Regions from separate parts of the Homo sapiens genome. Here region 2 is linked to region 1. The links come from fine-mapping of genetic effects on gene expression. A gene starts in region 1. The other region holds a variant in brackets. All regions are shown on one strand. Distances are from middle to middle.

What was found. PIP is the estimated chance that this variant, and not a neighbour inherited with it, causes the effect.
Region 2: its variant is fine-mapped to the expression of PRR13 in tibial artery (GTEx, PIP above 0.99). The same link has a PIP of 0.9 or more in tibial nerve.

What each region holds. Positions count from the first base shown.
Region 1 is chr12:53,436,861-53,445,190 of GRCh38, forward strand. PRR13 (proline rich 13) reads left to right here and starts at 4,874. Exons shown (of 4, transcript NM_018457.4): 1 at 4,874-4,932; 2 at 5,835-5,873; 3 at 6,531-6,913. The coding sequence starts at 5,855. RefSeq lists enhancers at 3,846-4,611, 4,342-4,431 and a silencer at 4,722-4,871.
Region 2 is chr12:53,843,929-53,852,258 of GRCh38, forward strand. It overlaps LOC105378250 (a long non-coding RNA gene), which reads left to right. Exons shown (of 5, transcript NR_189099.1): 2 at 4,931-5,028; 3 at 6,382-6,484. Among named protein-coding and RNA genes, the nearest start is that of HOXC13, 91 kb to the right of the region's middle. RefSeq lists an enhancer at 4,345-5,544. The variant G/A (reference allele first, on the strand shown) is at 3,462.

The DNA.
Region 1 (8,330 bases):
TAGAGACAGAGTTTCACCCTGTTAGCCAGGATGGTCTCGATCTCCTGACCTCGTGATCTGCCCGCCTCGGCCTCCCAAAGTGCTGGGATTACAGGCGTGAGCCACCGTGCCCAGCCTGTTTGTTTTGAGACAGGGTCTCATTCTGTGAGTGAGACTGGAGTTCAGTGGCATGATCTTGACTCACTGTAACTTCTGTCTCCCAGGCTCCAGTGATCCTACCACCCCAGCCTCGTAAGTAGCTGGGATTATGGGCGCACACAACCATGCCCAGCTAATTTTTCTATTTTTTGTAGAGACAAGATTTCACCATGTTGGCCAGGATGGTCTCGAACTCCTGAGCTCAAGGGAATCCACCAGTCTCAGCCTCCCAAAGTGCTGGGATTACAGGCATGAGCCACCCCACTCAGTCAAAAGATAGTCTTGTTATGTAAGATACTATCACTGGGGGAAGCTGGGTAAATTTTACAACTTCTTGTGAGTCTAAAATTATTTCAGAATAAAAGAACACTGTCTAGGCAATACCACTCAGGACATAGGCATGGGCAAAGATTTCATGATGGGATCACCAAAAGCAATCGCAATAAAAGCAAAAATTGACAAATGTGATCTAATTAAACTAAAGAGCTTCTGCACAGCAAAAGAAACTATCATCAGAACAAACAGGCAACCTACAGAATGGGAGAAAATTTTTGTGATCTGCCAAAGTGTCTAATATCCAGAATCTAGAAGAAACTCAAACAAATTTACGAGAAAAAAACAACCCCATTAAAAAGTGGGCAACGGCCAGCCTCCCCGTCCGGGAGGGAGGTGGGGGGCGGCCCCCGCCCGGCCAGCCGCCCCGTCCGGGAGGTGGGGGGTGCCTCTGCCCGGCCGCCCCTTCTGGGAAGTGAGGAGCCCCTCTGCCCTGCCGCCACCCCGTCCGGGAGGTGTACCCAACAGCTGATTGAGAACGGGCCATGATGACGATGGCGGTTTTGTCGAATAGAAAAGGGGGAAATGTGGGGAAAAGATACAGAAATCAGATTGTTGCTGTGTCTGTGTAGAAAGAAGTAGACATAGGAGACTCCATTTTGTTCTGTACTAAGAAAAATTCTTCTGCCTTGGGATGCTGTTGATCTATGACCTTACCCCCAACCCGGTGCTCTCTGAATCATGTGCTGTGTCCACTCAGGGTTAAATGGATTAAGGGCGGTGCAAGATGTGTTTTGTTAAACAGATGCTTGAAGGCAGCATGCTCGTTAAGAGTCATCACCACTCCCTAATCTCAAGTACCCAGGGACACAAACACTGGGGAAGGCCGCAGGGTCCTCTGCCTAGGAAAACCAGAGACCTTTGTTCACTTGTTTATCTGCTGACCTTCCCTCCACTATTGTCCTATGACCCTGCCAAATCCCCCTCTGCGAGAAACACCCAAGAATGATCAATTAAAAAAAAAAAAAAAAAAGAGATAGGAAAAAAAAAAAAAAAGTGGGCAAAAGGCCAGGTGCGGTGGCTCACGCCTATAATCCCAGCACTTTGGGGGGCCGAGGCGGGCGGATCACGAGGTCAGGAGATCAAGATCATCCTGGCTAAGAGGGTGAAACCCCGTCTCTACTAAAAATATAAAAAATTAGCCAGGCACGGTGGCGGGTGCCTGTAGTCCCAGCTACTCGGGAGGCTGAGGCAGGAGAATGGTGCGAACCTGGGAGGCGGAGCTTGCAGTGAGCCAAGATCGTGCCACTGCACTCCAGCCTGGACAACGGGGCCAGGGCGAGACTCCGTCTCAAAAAAAAAAGGGGGGGGCAAAGGACATTAACAGACATTTCTCAAAAGAAGATATGCAGCCGGCCGGGCGCGGTGGCTCACGCCTGTAATCCCAGCACTTTGGGAGGCCGAGGCGGGCGGATCACGAGGTCAGGAGATCGAGACCATCCCGGCTAAAACGGTGAAACCCCGTCTCTACTAAAAAATACAAAAAATTAGCCGGGCGTAGTGGCGGGCGCCTGTAGTCCCAGCTACTTGGGAGGCTGAGGCAGGAGAATGGCGTGAACCCGGGAGGCGGAGCTTGCAGTGAGCCGAGATCCCGCCACTGCACTCCAGCCCGGGCGACAGAGAGAGACTCCGTCTCAAAAAAAAAAAAAAAAAAAAAAAAAAAGAAGATATGCAGCCAACAAACATGAAAAAAAGCTCAACATCACTGAACATTAGAGAAATGTAAATCAAAACCATAATGAGATACTATCTCATGCCAGTCAGAATGGTGATTATTAAAAAGTCAAGAAATAACAGGCCAGGCCTGGTGGCTCATGCCTGTAACCCTAGCACTTTGGGAGGCCAAGGGTGAGTGAATCACTTGAGGTCAGGAGTTTGAAACCACCCTGGCCAGCATGGTGAAACCCTGTTTCTACTAAAAATACAAATATATATATGTATATATATATGGCAGGTGTGGCGGCAGGCACCTGTAATTCTAGCTACTCGGGAGGCTGAGGCAGGAGAATCGCTTGAACCCGGGAGGCAGAGGTTGCAGTGAGCTGAGATCCTGCCACTGCACTTCAGCCTGGGCGACAGAGCAAGACTCAGTCTCAAAAAAAAAAAAAAACCCAAAACCAAAATCCAGATGCTGGCAAGGTTGTGGAGAAATAGGAACATTTTTACACTGTTGGTGGGAGTGTAAATTAGTTCAACCATTGTGGAAGACGATGTGGCGATTCCTCAAAGATCTAGAACCAGAAATACCATTTGACCCAGCAATCTCATTACTGGGTGTATACCCAAAGGAATATAAATCATTCTATTACAAACATACATGCATGTGTATGTTCACTGTAGCACTATTCACAATAGCAAAGACATGGAATTAATCCAAATGCCCATCAACAATAGACTGAAAAACTGTGGTACATATATACCATGGAATACTATGTAGCCATAAAAAGGAATGAGATCATGTCCTTTATAGGGACATGGATGAAGCTGGAAGCCATTAACCTCAGCAAACTCATGCAGGAACATGTTCTCACTCAAGTGGGAGCTACACAGTAAGAACACATGGACACAAGGAGGGGAACAACACACACTGGGGCCTGTTGGGGGGTAGGGTCAGGGGAGTGAGAATATTAGGAAAAATAGCTAATGCATGCTGGGCTTAATACCTAGCTGATGGGTTTATTGGTGCAGCAAAATTTGTGCAGCAAACCAGCATGGCACACATTTAACTATGTAACAAACCTGCACATCATGCACATGTACCCCAGCACTAAAAATAAAAATTAAAAGAAAAAAAGTTTAAAATATTTCAAATGCTTTAGTTTAATATGACATATTTGGCATAAAATTTATTGTCTTAAATTTTTTTGTATCCCACTTTTTTTTTTTTTTTTTTTTGAAACAGAGTCCTGCTCTGTTGCTTAGTCTGGAGTGCAGTGGCATGATCTTGGCTCACTGCACCCTCTCCCTCCCAGGTTCAAGCGATTCTCATGCCTCAGCCTTCCCACTAGCTGGGATTACAGGTATGTGCCACCATGCCTAGCTCACTTTCTTTCTTTCTTTCTTTCTTTTTTTTTTTGAGATGGAGTCTCGCTCTGTTGCCCAGGCTGGAGTGCTATGGCGTGATCTCGGTTCACTGCAACCTCCCGGGTTCAAGCGATTCTCCTGCCTCAGCCTCTCAAGTGGCTGGGATTACAGGCACATGTCACCACGCCCGGCTAATTTTTGTATTTTTAGTAGAAACGGGGTTTTACCATATTGGCCAGGCTGGTCTCGAACTCCTGACCTTGTGATCCGCCTGCCTCGGCCTCCCAAAGTGCTGGGATTACAGGCGTGAGCCACTGCGCCCGGCCACTTGTATTTTTTTTTTTTTTTTAAAGGCTGGGTACGGTGGCTCACGCCTATAATCCCAGCACTTTGGGAGGCCGAGGCGGGCAGATCACGAAGTCAAGAGAGCGAGACCATCCTGGCCAACATGGTGAAATCCCATCTCTACTAAAAAATAGAAAAATTAGCCGCGTCTGTAGTCCCAGCTACTTCGGAGGCTGAGGCAGGATTATCGCTTGAACCCGGGAAGCGGAGGTTGCAGTGAGCCGAGGTCGCACCACTGCACTCCAGCCTCGTGACAGAGCGAGACTCCGTCTCAAAAAAAAAAAAAAAAAAAAAAAGGGAGGCCATTGTAGGGAGGCCATTGTAGCAATTCAGGGGAGAGATGAATCCAGGCGACAGATGATGGGAGGTTTGGAGCAGGGAAGACAGAGAGAAGTGGAGAGATTCCAGATATATTTGAGAGACAAAACTGATAATTTGGGGTAAGGGAGGTGAAGGAGGCAGAGGGATCACGGACGCCCTCCTTGGTTTCTGGTTTAGGCTACTTGACAGATGGCGGAGCTATGCAATTGAGAGAGGGAATCCTGGGAGAGATTATGAAATCTCTGTATCTTCCGCAAGAATGTTTGTTTGCTTCCCTTGCGAGTGTAAGACGGAGCCGGGAACATTGAGGCTTGGGGCTGGGACTCAGCAGCTCTTCTGCCCTTGCCGAGAACTCTGTCTATATCTGTATTACAACACTTACCATAGTGTATTCATTTTACAAGGTATTGCACCCAGTGAACCATGAGGTAAGAGAGCAAGGGAAGAGTTTCTTCTCGGTGTCTCTAGGACTTTGCCCAGCAGCTGGCCCCGCCCCCTCCAGCGCTCTCCGCCTAGCCCCGCCCCCAGGAGATTTCCGGCTTCTCGGTACTGGCCTAGCCGTAAAGGGCTCCGCTCCGCCCCTAGAGCAACCGTTTCCTCCTCAGTCGGACCAGAGTGATTGATTAGTTTGTTGTCTAATCATCAGTCGAGCGGCCACATAATTACCAATTAGGCAGTAGCAGAGGCGGGTGCCGAAGCACGGGGTCTGGGTGACTAGGAAGAGCCGAGACTGCGAAGGAGAACGCAGCAAGCCCAGGCGGCGGTGGAAAGGTGATGGGGTATCTGGATTCCATAGGTTTTTCCTTTTCCCCTTGCTAGGTCAAGAGTCTCTTCGCAGCTTGGGGCTAGGATCTTCATTTGCCTTTTTTCTTTTTTGGAGGAAGGGGGCTGTGTCCACATATTTAAGTATTTGAGGTTCTTGGGCAACTTCCTTCTTACTTCGCCTCGAGGCGTATCCTTTTTTTAGCCTGAGGTGGGGTCCTCCCCAGGGAGAGAGAAAGTTGTTTGAGATCCTTTCTTACTCTGTGCGTGGTTAAAGGCCTCCGTACTCAGTTCCAGGGAAAGGGAGATGAGTGATGGTGGGGCCGAGACTCGCGGGTACTGCCTACTTCCGAAGAGTTAGACGCTTCCACCTGGGTGGAGGGGCCCTGGGAACTAGATTCCTGTGTTAGGAACCAAGTAGGTATTGAGGGCGAAGAAACAAGTGGAAAGAGACATTTCTTTTCTTTTCTTTTCTTTTTGAGACGGTGTCTTGCTCCGTCGCCCAGGCTAGAGTGCAGTGGCGCGGTCTCGGCTCACTGCAACCTCTGCCTCCCGGGTTCAAGCAATTTTCCTGACTCAGCCTCCCGAATAACTGGGATTACAGGTGCCCGCCACCGCGCCCGGCTAATTTTTAGATTTTTAGTAGAGACGGGGTTTCACGATGTTGGCCAGGCTGGTCTCGAACTCTTGACCTCGTGATCCACCCGCCTCGGCCTCCCAAAGTGCTGGGATTACAGGCGTGAGCCACCGCGCCCAGCCAGAAAAGAGACATTTCTTATGTGGAAGTTGTGGTAGTTCTCCAGGTAGGAGAGCCTACTGTGGGGTGGAAGACGTTAGGGCTGGGCTCCGGTGCTAAGTCCACTTCCTACCTCTAGACCGTCATCTTTTTTGCCTCATTTCTTTCTCCTCAGGCTGGAGGACACACCTAAACATGTGGAATCCCAATGCCGGTAGGTGTTTGGGGGTTCTGTTCCACCCCTAACCCTTTTTCTGATGGGCTCTATAACAGGAAGTTTCTGTATCAGCTCCCCTACCCCCGACCTGCTGTACCCGCAAAAGCAAAGTCCTTAGTCTAGAGCTGACCAGTGCTTTTTAATTTAATTTAATTTATTTATTTTTTGAGATGGAGTCTCTGTTGCCCAGGCTCACTGCAACCTCCGCCTCCTGGGTTCAAGCGATTCTCCTGTTTCAGCCTCTGGAGTAGCTGAGATTACAGACGCATGCTATCACGCCCGGCTACTTTTTGTATTTTTAGTAGAGATGGGGGTTTCACAATTTGGCCAGGCTGGTCTCAAACTCATGGCCTCATGAGATCTGTCCACCTCGGCCTCCCAAAGTGCTGGGATTACAGGCGTGAGCCACCGCGCCTGGACTGACCAGTGCTTTTGTCTTCCTCAGAGTTCACTGTCTCCCTCCTCTCCCTAGCCCTTCCAGGGACATTCCCCCTTTTCTCCCCAACTCAAGTTTGTCTCCCCTACCCTCCATTCTTCTTTGTCATCTTTCCGTTTCCCTTTAAGTATTGAGTGAGAAAGAATCTCTTTCTTTTTGTTGTTTGTTGTTGGAGACTCTGGGGAATTCTAATGTTTATTCTCTGCTTCTTCCACCAGGGCAGCCAGGGCCAAATCCATATCCCCCCAATATTGGGTGCCCTGGAGGTTCCAATCCTGCCCACCCACCACCTATTAATCCACCCTTTCCCCCAGGCCCCTGTCCTCCTCCCCCAGGAGCTCCCCATGGCAATCCAGCTTTCCCCCCAGGTGGGCCCCCTCATCCTGTGCCACAGCCAGGGTATCCAGGATGCCAACCGTTGGGTCCCTACCCTCCTCCATACCCACCGCCTGCCCCTGGAATCCCTCCTGTGAATCCCTTGGCTCCTGGCATGGTTGGACCAGCAGTGATAGTAGACAAGAAGATGCAGAAGAAAATGAAGAAAGCTCATAAAAAGATGCACAAGCACCAAAAGCACCACAAGTACCACAAGCATGGCAAGGTCAGTACCCTCTGGAGACTGGCTAGGGAAGGAGTCCCCCCTCAGAGGGACTAGGTAGGCAGGGGTTGGGTGAGGGGGATTCACATTCTGTGGACGTGAGGGATGACAATTGTGTCGCTCTGGTAGATGATTCTTCCTTTTTATAAAAGATTGCTACTGGGAAGAATCTGATTATCTTGAAAATAAACATCAGGCTTCTCCTATCTGGGGGGAGTTAGGGTGAGCCTTAGAATGGATTTTAGAATCAAAAGCCAAATCTTTTCTGCCCTACTCTCCCAGAACTTTTGCTCCCCTCCCGCCAGGTGCATATTCTAGCAAGTTGGACACGCCCACTGACATTGTCAAAATACCAAAGTCATTCCTTTGACAAAGCAAGGTCTTATAATAATTAACAGAATTAATCTGTCCCTAGTTCCAGAAGTTCCTTCTCTCTTTCATCAGTGTTCTTAGGGCGTTGTGTTAATTACATGGGTCCTTTGCCCTATCATCCAGCAGAAAAAGTGAGGACAAGAGCAGTCAGTGACTAGGCTTCTAACAAAGCCTAGGACTAAGGAGGTTTTTTTTTTTTTTTTTTGAGACGGAGTCCCGCTCTTTAGCCCAGGCCAGATTGCAGTGGCACAATCTCGGCTCACTGCAAGCTCCGCCTCCCAGGTTCACGCCATTCTCCTGCCTCAGCCTCCCGAGTAGCTGGGACTACAGGCGCCCGCCACCGCGCCCGGCTAATTCTTTGTATTTTTAGTAGAGATGGGGTTTCACCGTGTTAGCCAAGATGGTCTCGATCTCCTGACCTTGTGATCCGCCCGCCTTGGCCTCCCAAAGTGCTGGGATTACAGGCGTGAGCCACTGCACCCAGCCCTAAGGAGGTTTTATACTCAGCTCCAAGGCTAAGTATCTTTGTTTTAGAGGAGTGTTAAAAATTGGTAAGGGTGGCCAGGTGCCATGGCTCATGCCTGTAATCCTAGCACTTGGGAATTATTAGCTGGGTGTGGTGGCGCATGCCTGTAATCCCAGCTACTCAGGAGGCTGAGGCAGGAGAATTGCTTGAACCCGGGAGGCAGAGATGGCAGTGAGCCCAGATCTCACCACTGCACTCCAGCCTCGGTGACAGATAAGACTCCATCTCAAACAAACAAACAAAAAATAGCAAGGATAAAAGCAACTCTGAGGACAACTCTGGAAGGATTAAACCAATCTGCATCTTGATGAGGCCTCCATTTACATTTAACTGCCCAGTATTTATTTGCCTTGTGGATTCTAATTCCTGATTCTGGGTCTTTGATAGAAATCTGAAGAGAAGGCTGTGCGCCGTGGTCCACACCTGTAATCCCAGCACTTTGGGATTCCGGGGCGGGCGGATCACGAGGTCAGGAGTTCAAGACCAGCCTAGCCAACATGGTGAAACCTGTCTACTAAAGAT
Region 2 (8,330 bases), 410 kb after region 1:
GTTTCCTTCTAATTCCAATAGGAGAGTTTAGGGTTGGACAAAAGAAAGGATTATAGAATTGTCCAAAGCAAATGCACCATTTCATTGTCTTCTGTGCCCTAAAATATGTGTGGCCTGTGAGGAGGGCACCTGCTCTAAGGCAGAAAGGTGCACAGGGATGGAGCTGATCTTCAGCTCCTGCAGTGGATGGGGAGTGGGGGCAGTTGGTGCTCTTAAGTGTTGCTCTCGGCGTCTCTGGCTCAGGCTTCTGTAAGTACAGACCTGCATCTGAGCCCCGCCCCAAGTGTTGATTATACCCCTTGGGATGCATCATTGCTAAGAAAGCAGATGTGCCAGATGTGACATGTTTGAAAGAAAAAAAAATCCCTCGCCTCTGAGCCTTGAGGGGGGCAGCTCATCACCATCTTGCTGCTGCTTATGGGGAAGGCAGCTGAGGTTGGGCTTAGCCAGCTTCGTACCCTCCTAGTCCCTCCACAGAAGGGTCTCCAAGCACTAAAGGAGCCAGATGTGGGGAAGGAGAGTGAGGAAAGAAGGAAGAGACACTGAGGCCCCATTTCAAATGGAAGAGATTTTGGTTGCCCAGTAGTGGGTGGGCTGCCAGCTAGTTCACCTTACTGGGTTGGGCTCCTCATGTAAGGAGGTGTTGATATGTGTGCATGTGCGTGTGTGTGTGTGTGTGTGTGTGTGAACAGTCTCTAAGTATGAGTTTCTAGGAATTCAACCCCATAATACCACTCTGGTTTATCTTCCAACTTCTCCTGAATGCCTCCCATGACTTCCTGGGAAGCCTCCTGCTCCATACCTCCCTGCTGCCCTTGCAGTTTTCCTAGTTTTATTTTCTTCCTGCCCTCAGAAATTGAGCTCAGAACTTGCTGTATGTCTTGTCCTTTGCCTGAGGGAGAACCTCTTGAGCTGTGCTGACAGATGTCTCAGTCTGGGAAGACGCAGAATGCTTTGCTGGGTACCTCTCTGCCAAGGTGGCACCCAAGATACCCAAATATCAGGGTCTTGGTTCTTCAGTTACTCCCCCAGTCATTCTCAATGCTGATGGGATAAAGGAACAATTCATTCAATAAGACAAGGAAAGGACTCGGGAAAGAAATCCAAGAAAGACTCTTGAGTATACTAGAAAGTTCTAAGACTGAGGTCAAGGTAAAGTCACAAAATACTGCACAATGCCTGGGGAATGGATTTAATGGTTCTAAAGTATCAACAACCCTTAGAATGTTTCCAGACATTCCAGGCATTCCAGAAAGCCTCTGCTTAGATTCCTAGAGGTGATTCTTGATTACATCTTTAAGTGTTGACATTTCCTATTTTCTAAATTAGATTCTAACCCTTCTAATCTGAGCCCAAGAAAAGTGGACCTGTCACCAAGACATCTTGGCGGCTAACCCAAGACTTGAATACTTGTAAGTTAGCAGAGTTCTGTTTCTACCAGCTAAAAGTCCACTGACTAAACCAAATCCTACAAAGTAGCTCTGGCTCTATCCCTAACCTTATCTTTAATCCTGATCCTGAAATTAACCCTAACCCAAATCCCAATTCTAACCCTGCTTACCTCTCCCGTCCCCCACACCCACTACCTGGAATGATTTGAGAGTGGGAGGGGTTGGGGAGGAGAGGGCAAGATGAGGAATGCCTCTGGGGCAACGGAGGAGGAGATCCAGCCAGAGCGACCTGGAGGAGCCAGTGTGGTATCTGGGAGCCTGGGGCATAATCCTGGTACTTGCCAAGCCATGAGTCACAACATCATTCTCCATGGCATTTTGTTGGAGGGTGTCTGGGCTGGCAGCTGGTAAACAGGCTTGCTTAGAATAAGGTGTGCCCCACTGCCCCTCTCCATAATTTGGGGGAGAAGGGAGAAAGTCTTCTGTCCTGAGGGTCCTTCTTTCCTCTGTCCTTTTAGATTTCACAAGACTCAGTCAAAGCAAGAGGAAATACTTGGAACTTAGAAATTCTTTGTTGCTAGTTGCAAGGAAATTATGGAGAGATGAAATCATTGAGAATGCAGAGTCTTGAAGCTTCCAAACGTGAGAGGTGCCCTAGTCCAGCCCCCTAAGCGTTATCCCCCCAAGCGTCATCCCCCTGAGGGATGCCAGGTTGCCCCATTCTGCCCTGTGCCCTCTCATGGCAATGCCCATGCTACTCCACCACCCTCCCACTGCAGTCACTGCCAAAATTCAGATAGGCATCCACTGCGGCTGGATAGAGATCTTTATGGGGGTAAACATGTGCTTGTGGATAAAATAGCAACTGGAAACACCTGGACTTTTTTCCTGAACTTGGTACCTATCCCAGCTAGCATCAGTCATGATGCGTCAGTTTTCTATCTACAAAATGGGACCAACTCTGAGCCTTACTCTTGGGGAAGGTTTAGAAGGAGCAGTACACTAATGACTATTTTCTGACATCGAGAGATGATGATTGGGGTTATTATTGTTTATTCCTTGAGGATGCAAGACAGCCATCAGCCTGACTCTAAACACATGTAGTTCATTGCAATTGCTGTCTTTGGGGCTCAGAGAAGCTCTGCTCCTTGTTTCCCTATCCTTAGCCCGTATCTGCCAATCCTACTATTACTATTTATACTATAAATAGGACTTCAGGGAAGGAGGGTGCCTGGTTGCTTGATGTCTTCCCTCTAGGCCTTATTTTCACACCTTGGAGCAGAATTTACACACCCCTCCCATTACAGATTTAGCTCCTGTCCCAGCATCCTTTGCCGGGTTTGGAGGTTAAAAGTTCTTTAAATCCAGCTAGGAACTGACAGTTGCAGGACCTAACCTGCAGTATGTTATGAGAGACCCCCAATGCTTCATCCTTTGAACGCCACACAACAGTCACTTCAACGAAGTCTTCTAAACTCCCAGGTGCTACCCACTTGGCAGACACCAGTGTTTCAGTTTGTTGAGGATTTCAAAAATACTGTTTGATTTAGAAAAAAGTCAAATGTATAAATCAAACTATGTAAATCAAAAGAGGTTTGGTGTCACAATTCCTGCCAACTGCCTCCTTTTCTCTCTCTCTCTCCATAATACTGAAACATTGTAGTAATAATAATAACTAACATTTAAAGAGCATTTTACAGTTCCAAAGTGTTGTCATTTATCATCATTCGATGATAAACCTGTGTGCTTGGAATTCTTACCCACATTTTACAGATGAGAAAACTGAGGAACAGAGTGTTTAGTGAGTTCCTCAAGGTTACAAAACTAGTAAGTGACCCAGTTGGCATTTGATCAAAATGTAGTGACTGTTACAAGGAGGCTGAAAGTCTTTTTATTGTCCAACTATGGAAAAAGGAGTTAGGGAGCCCTTTCTGAAGAACTTTTCAGGATGGGGAATACAGAATTTCTAATTCACAGAAGTGTTCCTAACTCACAGAATCAGGATAAGATGACCTTGGCCTGGGGCCCAAAAGATATCAGGTGTAAAATACACAGTAAATCTAACTGTAA[G/A]GTCAGATAAATATTAAGAAAAATGAGAAAAAAATGCCATCATTTACATGCAGATAGTATTTAATTGCTGAAGTTTTGAACATTCTAAGCAGTCTTATTTAGAAGTAATCCCCAGAGGCTAATCTGTCCAGGGTCCCATCTCTAGGCCATACTGTTAACACGTGGTTGGATGCCCTGTTCTTTTATTTATTTATTTATTTAATTTTTAAAATTTCCGCTTTTATTTTAGGTTCAGGAGGTGCACGTGAAAGTTTGTTGCATGGGGGAATTGTGTGATGCTGAGGTTTGGGGTAGGAATGATCCCATCACCCAGGTAGTGAGCATAGTACCCAACAGGTAGTTTTTCAACCCTCATCCCCGCCTTCCTTCCTCGTTTAGTATTCCTCAGTGTCTATTGTTTCCATCTTTATGTCCATATGTACTCAGTGTTTAGCTCCCACTTATACGTGAGAACATGTGGTATTTGGTTTTCTTCTGTGTTAATTTGGTTAGGATAATGGCCTCCAGCTGCATCCATGTTGCTGCAAAGGACATAATTTCATTCTTCTTTTTTTTTTTTAAATGGGATGCCCAGTTCTTAAAGATGTCAGGGGAACAAGAGCTCATGTAGTATTTGATTCACCTATTATTAACTTTATCTTAGACCCAATCTAAATATCTTTTGCTGTTATCCCACTAGTTCTGTGTTAGTGGGAGTAGAGTAAAGCTTTCCAATCTCCACCTCTCTCTCTCTCTCTCTCTGCCACTTTTCTGCTTAGAAACTTTTGCTGGTTTCCCACAGCCACCTTATTGGGTGCTTACTATGTGTCAGGCACTGGTGCTTTATATGCACGATCTAATTAGATTGCTACATCAACCCTGTGAGGTAGGGGCTTTTGCTTTCTTCATTTTAACATAAGAAACAAAGAATAGTTAAAAAATTTGTCTGGCATCCCATGACCGGAAAGTGGCAGAGCTGAGAAACTCTGTGTATATTAAAATGTATATTTTATGTCTCTTGATGGCAGGACCTGACATCTCTTGTACCAAACACCAAGCATAGCCCTCCAGTAATGCTCAATAAATGCTTGCTGATGACTATGTTGATGAAGAAAAAAACAGTTCTATGATCAAAATAATCAGGAGGAAGGGGAATTTTAATTTGGACTATCCAATTTGCATAGGAGAACAAACCTCTTGATTCTTACCGACTTTGGTGATGCCATTTCAAGAGCCCCTGCTATGTGCAGAGCTCTCCATTCAGTGGAGGAACCCTCTAGGGCTAAGACCTGATTTCTGTCCTTAGGGAGCTCAAAGGTCAACGGAGGCGACTGCACTCAGATCTAAGACACAGACATTTTTACTGAATTAACATGACCGTTGCAGGTTCTGACACTACCCAAGAAGAGTTTGGAGGCTCTGGTATGCTCTGATGGTAGGAGGAGATGGTACAGGGAGGCCACAAAGACTGATGCTCTTTGGTTCTCCAGTTGTCTTTCAGGAGGTGTAGCCTGGTTGTGGCCTGGGGAGTTTGGCTGTTCTGTGTGGTGTGCCTCCACGGTGTGGTCTCCAGTGAGCTGCTCAGCAGGTAAGGCGGTCCAGAGATGATTTACCCCAGAACAAGGTGAAGAGATGAGAGGACAGGAAGAAGCTCCTCAAGGCCACAGAGCAGCAGAACTGAAACAAGAACCAAACGAATCCACGTAAATGTCTCAGCCTCACAGGGTGCGGGTGGAGAGGAGGTGCCATTTCTGTCAGAATGACCCGGTGCTCCAATCGCTCCCATGTGCCTCCTTTCACTCCCACCACCCGCACTTTGCTTAAGCACCCTGCCCTGAAGCAAGAGCTGAGATGTCAGTTTTTGGGGAAAGTGAGATGCAGAGTTGCCTGACAAATGGGTGGGTCCCCCCAACCCCGCCTAGTTTATGAGCCCAGGGTGGCTCCTCCCTTCTAACACCCTCCCTCTCTTTATGACCCTGCGCAATCTTTGATGTCTTCTTCTTGTGAAGGGTGGTGAGGGAGAAAGAAGACAACCTCAGCCAAAGAGGCCCTGCCCACGATAGTTCTCGGGTGAGGGAAGGGGCTCCAGGGAGTAGGGCAGGGATTTTGCACAAAGAGCGGTAAGTTGGACAAGCTGACACACTGACCATCCCTCCAGATCTGTATCTACTTGGGAAACATCGGCACTACATTTGGTCTCTTTCATGGCAATAGAAAGAACATGCTTAGGCTTTGAGCAAGCCAGGCCTGGGTTCAAATCCTAGAACTTCAACATTCTAGCTTTTTGACCTTGGGCAAATTGCTTAACCCCTTGAGCTTCAGTTTCCTCAACTAAATTAAGTAATACACTATACATTTCATAAGATGTCATGAAAAACTAAGTAAAACATGCTTACATAAAGTGCCAACATCCATCAAGTGTCTTGCATACAAACTTGTCCCTCTAATTAAAAGATACATTTCTTGACAGCAGGGATGTCAATGGCTTGCTGCCCTCCACACCCCTCCACTATTTCCAACACCACAGACCTCTTTGCCTCTCTGTTTTATGTAGAGAGGCATTTTTTACTGAAGCATGTTCTGCTTTCCTTACAAATGCACAAATCCCAGGATTTGTGCCAATCTTTTCTGTCTTCTGCAGGCCCCCATCTCAAAAGCCACAAAAAGAAAAGGTGGCCAGAGAGCTTCTCCTACCCTGGAGAATCCTGTAAGCAACTTTTTCTTCACACTTGGCAGTTTTCCCTCTTCTCTGCCATGCTCCCTTTCTCCTCCATTAAAATGATTTTATTTGCTTTGCTCCTATTCTTATCCATCTATATATTATTTTTTATTTTATAGCTATCCTATAATGGTCTGGGGCTATCCCTCCTGAATCACCAACTAGGCTTACTTTAGGATTTAATTTGGTTTTATTAAAATTACCAAAATTCTCTCTGGGCAGGTGTAGACCCGGGCAGGGCGAAGCTCTCTGGGCTGTTGACTGTGAGGCCCCTCCCCACCGGTAGATTTCCAAGCCTCTTCAGTTTTGCATTCAGCCACAGCAGGTGAGTGTTTCTGGTGCATGTGGACTGTGTGTGCGTGTATGTGTGTGTCCTTACCCTATTTTGTCTTATAAAATCTCATAAAATGGGTTTCCCACTCTCACTACCTTTACTTATCCATGTCTACACTCTTGTTGGGAGCTAATGCTTGCCTACATGATTTTTGCCTTTTCTAAATTCATAAGTAGGAATTTAGAGGAATCCCAGGTAGCCGGTGTAAGTGCATCTGAAACCAGTGAATGCACCACAGGTGTCTGATATGGATATAGGGAGGGGATGTGTGTGGGTGTGTGCATGTGTGTTTGTCTAAATGTAGCTTGAAGTGTAGATGTTTCCCCAAGTGGCTAGACACTACAATCTCAGAACTATAAGAACACAGATTTATACTGCCTAAGGAAAGGCTGTAATGTATCTTAAGAGGTGAAAGAAGCTGCCTACAAGAGGACACAATACCTGCTCTGGGGGGGGGTATAGACACATCCTAATATGTAGATTCTATCAGAGATCATTTTTGGTGTAAACTATAGTAATAGGTTTTAGGCTGCTTTACTCTTTCTTTTCAGAAAAGTAGTGTAGGAAAAGCTTGGCGGGGGAAACAGATTTCCATTTAAATTTTCCAATATATTACTTTTTCCCTTGAATAAAGATATCTTCATTAGGATTCAGAAATTTTTGCTTTAGGGGGGCTGCACCCAGAAGTAGTAGAATAGGAAATAGGAATCAAAGAAAATGAGAATGGTGAAACTGAAAAGAAACCTCCTGAATTGGATTTCTCATATTTATCTTGGTGGTCGATCATTGTCCCCCAAGGCCACCAACCCACACATTGAGAGGTAGAACTCAGGCAAAACTTCTCCCCCAGTTCTGTCTTAGTCTAGTTTTCCTGCCTGAAGAGAGACATTTTCAATTCATCAGAGCTTGTGCCTCCCTCCAACTTAAGATCTAAATGAGTGTTTTCCCACCTCTGTCTATCTACTCACATCCCAAATATCTCCAAAGAAACTGGGGAAGAGCTCTCTAATGGGGAACGTGAACATTCCACTTCTCTATTAGAGAATCCCACAAAATTATGTCAGAGAGCTGCTGGACCAGGAGTCTCTGTTTCTCAGTACCCTGACTTTTGCTCCCTCCCCACTGCTTTGCTTGGCTGGAATCAATTGACATTGAACCTGCCTATTGCATTTAAGAGAAGTGGGAGTACAGAAAGGGTTTTTAAAAAGTTAGCTTCAATCCCAGCACTTTGGGAGGCCGAGGCGGGTGGATCATGAGGTCAGGAGATCGAGACCATCCTGGCTAACAAGGTGAAACCCCGTCTCTACTAAAAATACAAAAAATTAGCCGGGCGCGGTGGCGGGCGCCTGTAGTCCCAGCTACTCGGGAGGCTGAGGCAGGAGAATGGCGTGAACCCGGGAAGCGGAGCTTGCAGTGAGCCGAGACTGCGCCACTGCAGTCCGCAGTCCGGCCTGGGCGACAGAGCGAGACTCCGTCTCAAAAAAAAAAAAAAAAAAGTTAGCTTCATGTTAGGAATAATGCAAGGACTCAAGTGCCTCCCTAAGGATCTAATTTTGAATCTACAGGGTTGAATGAGAAACTAGTCCATTTGAGGCAGCCTAACATGGGGCACTTGAAAATGGACATTTTCTCACGATCTGTCCTTTCCTTTAAAAAAATAATGTAACTTAGAAGAATATGATTATCCTAAAACATTTTATTTTTTAATTAAAGAGGGTTCATTATGCTACCCGTCTCATCTCGTCTCAGAGGAGGAAAACCCTGTGTTCAGCAAGTTTGCTAAGAAATAATTATAGGTTCAGATCTTCCCCAGGCCCCGAAATTCAATTAAAATTTT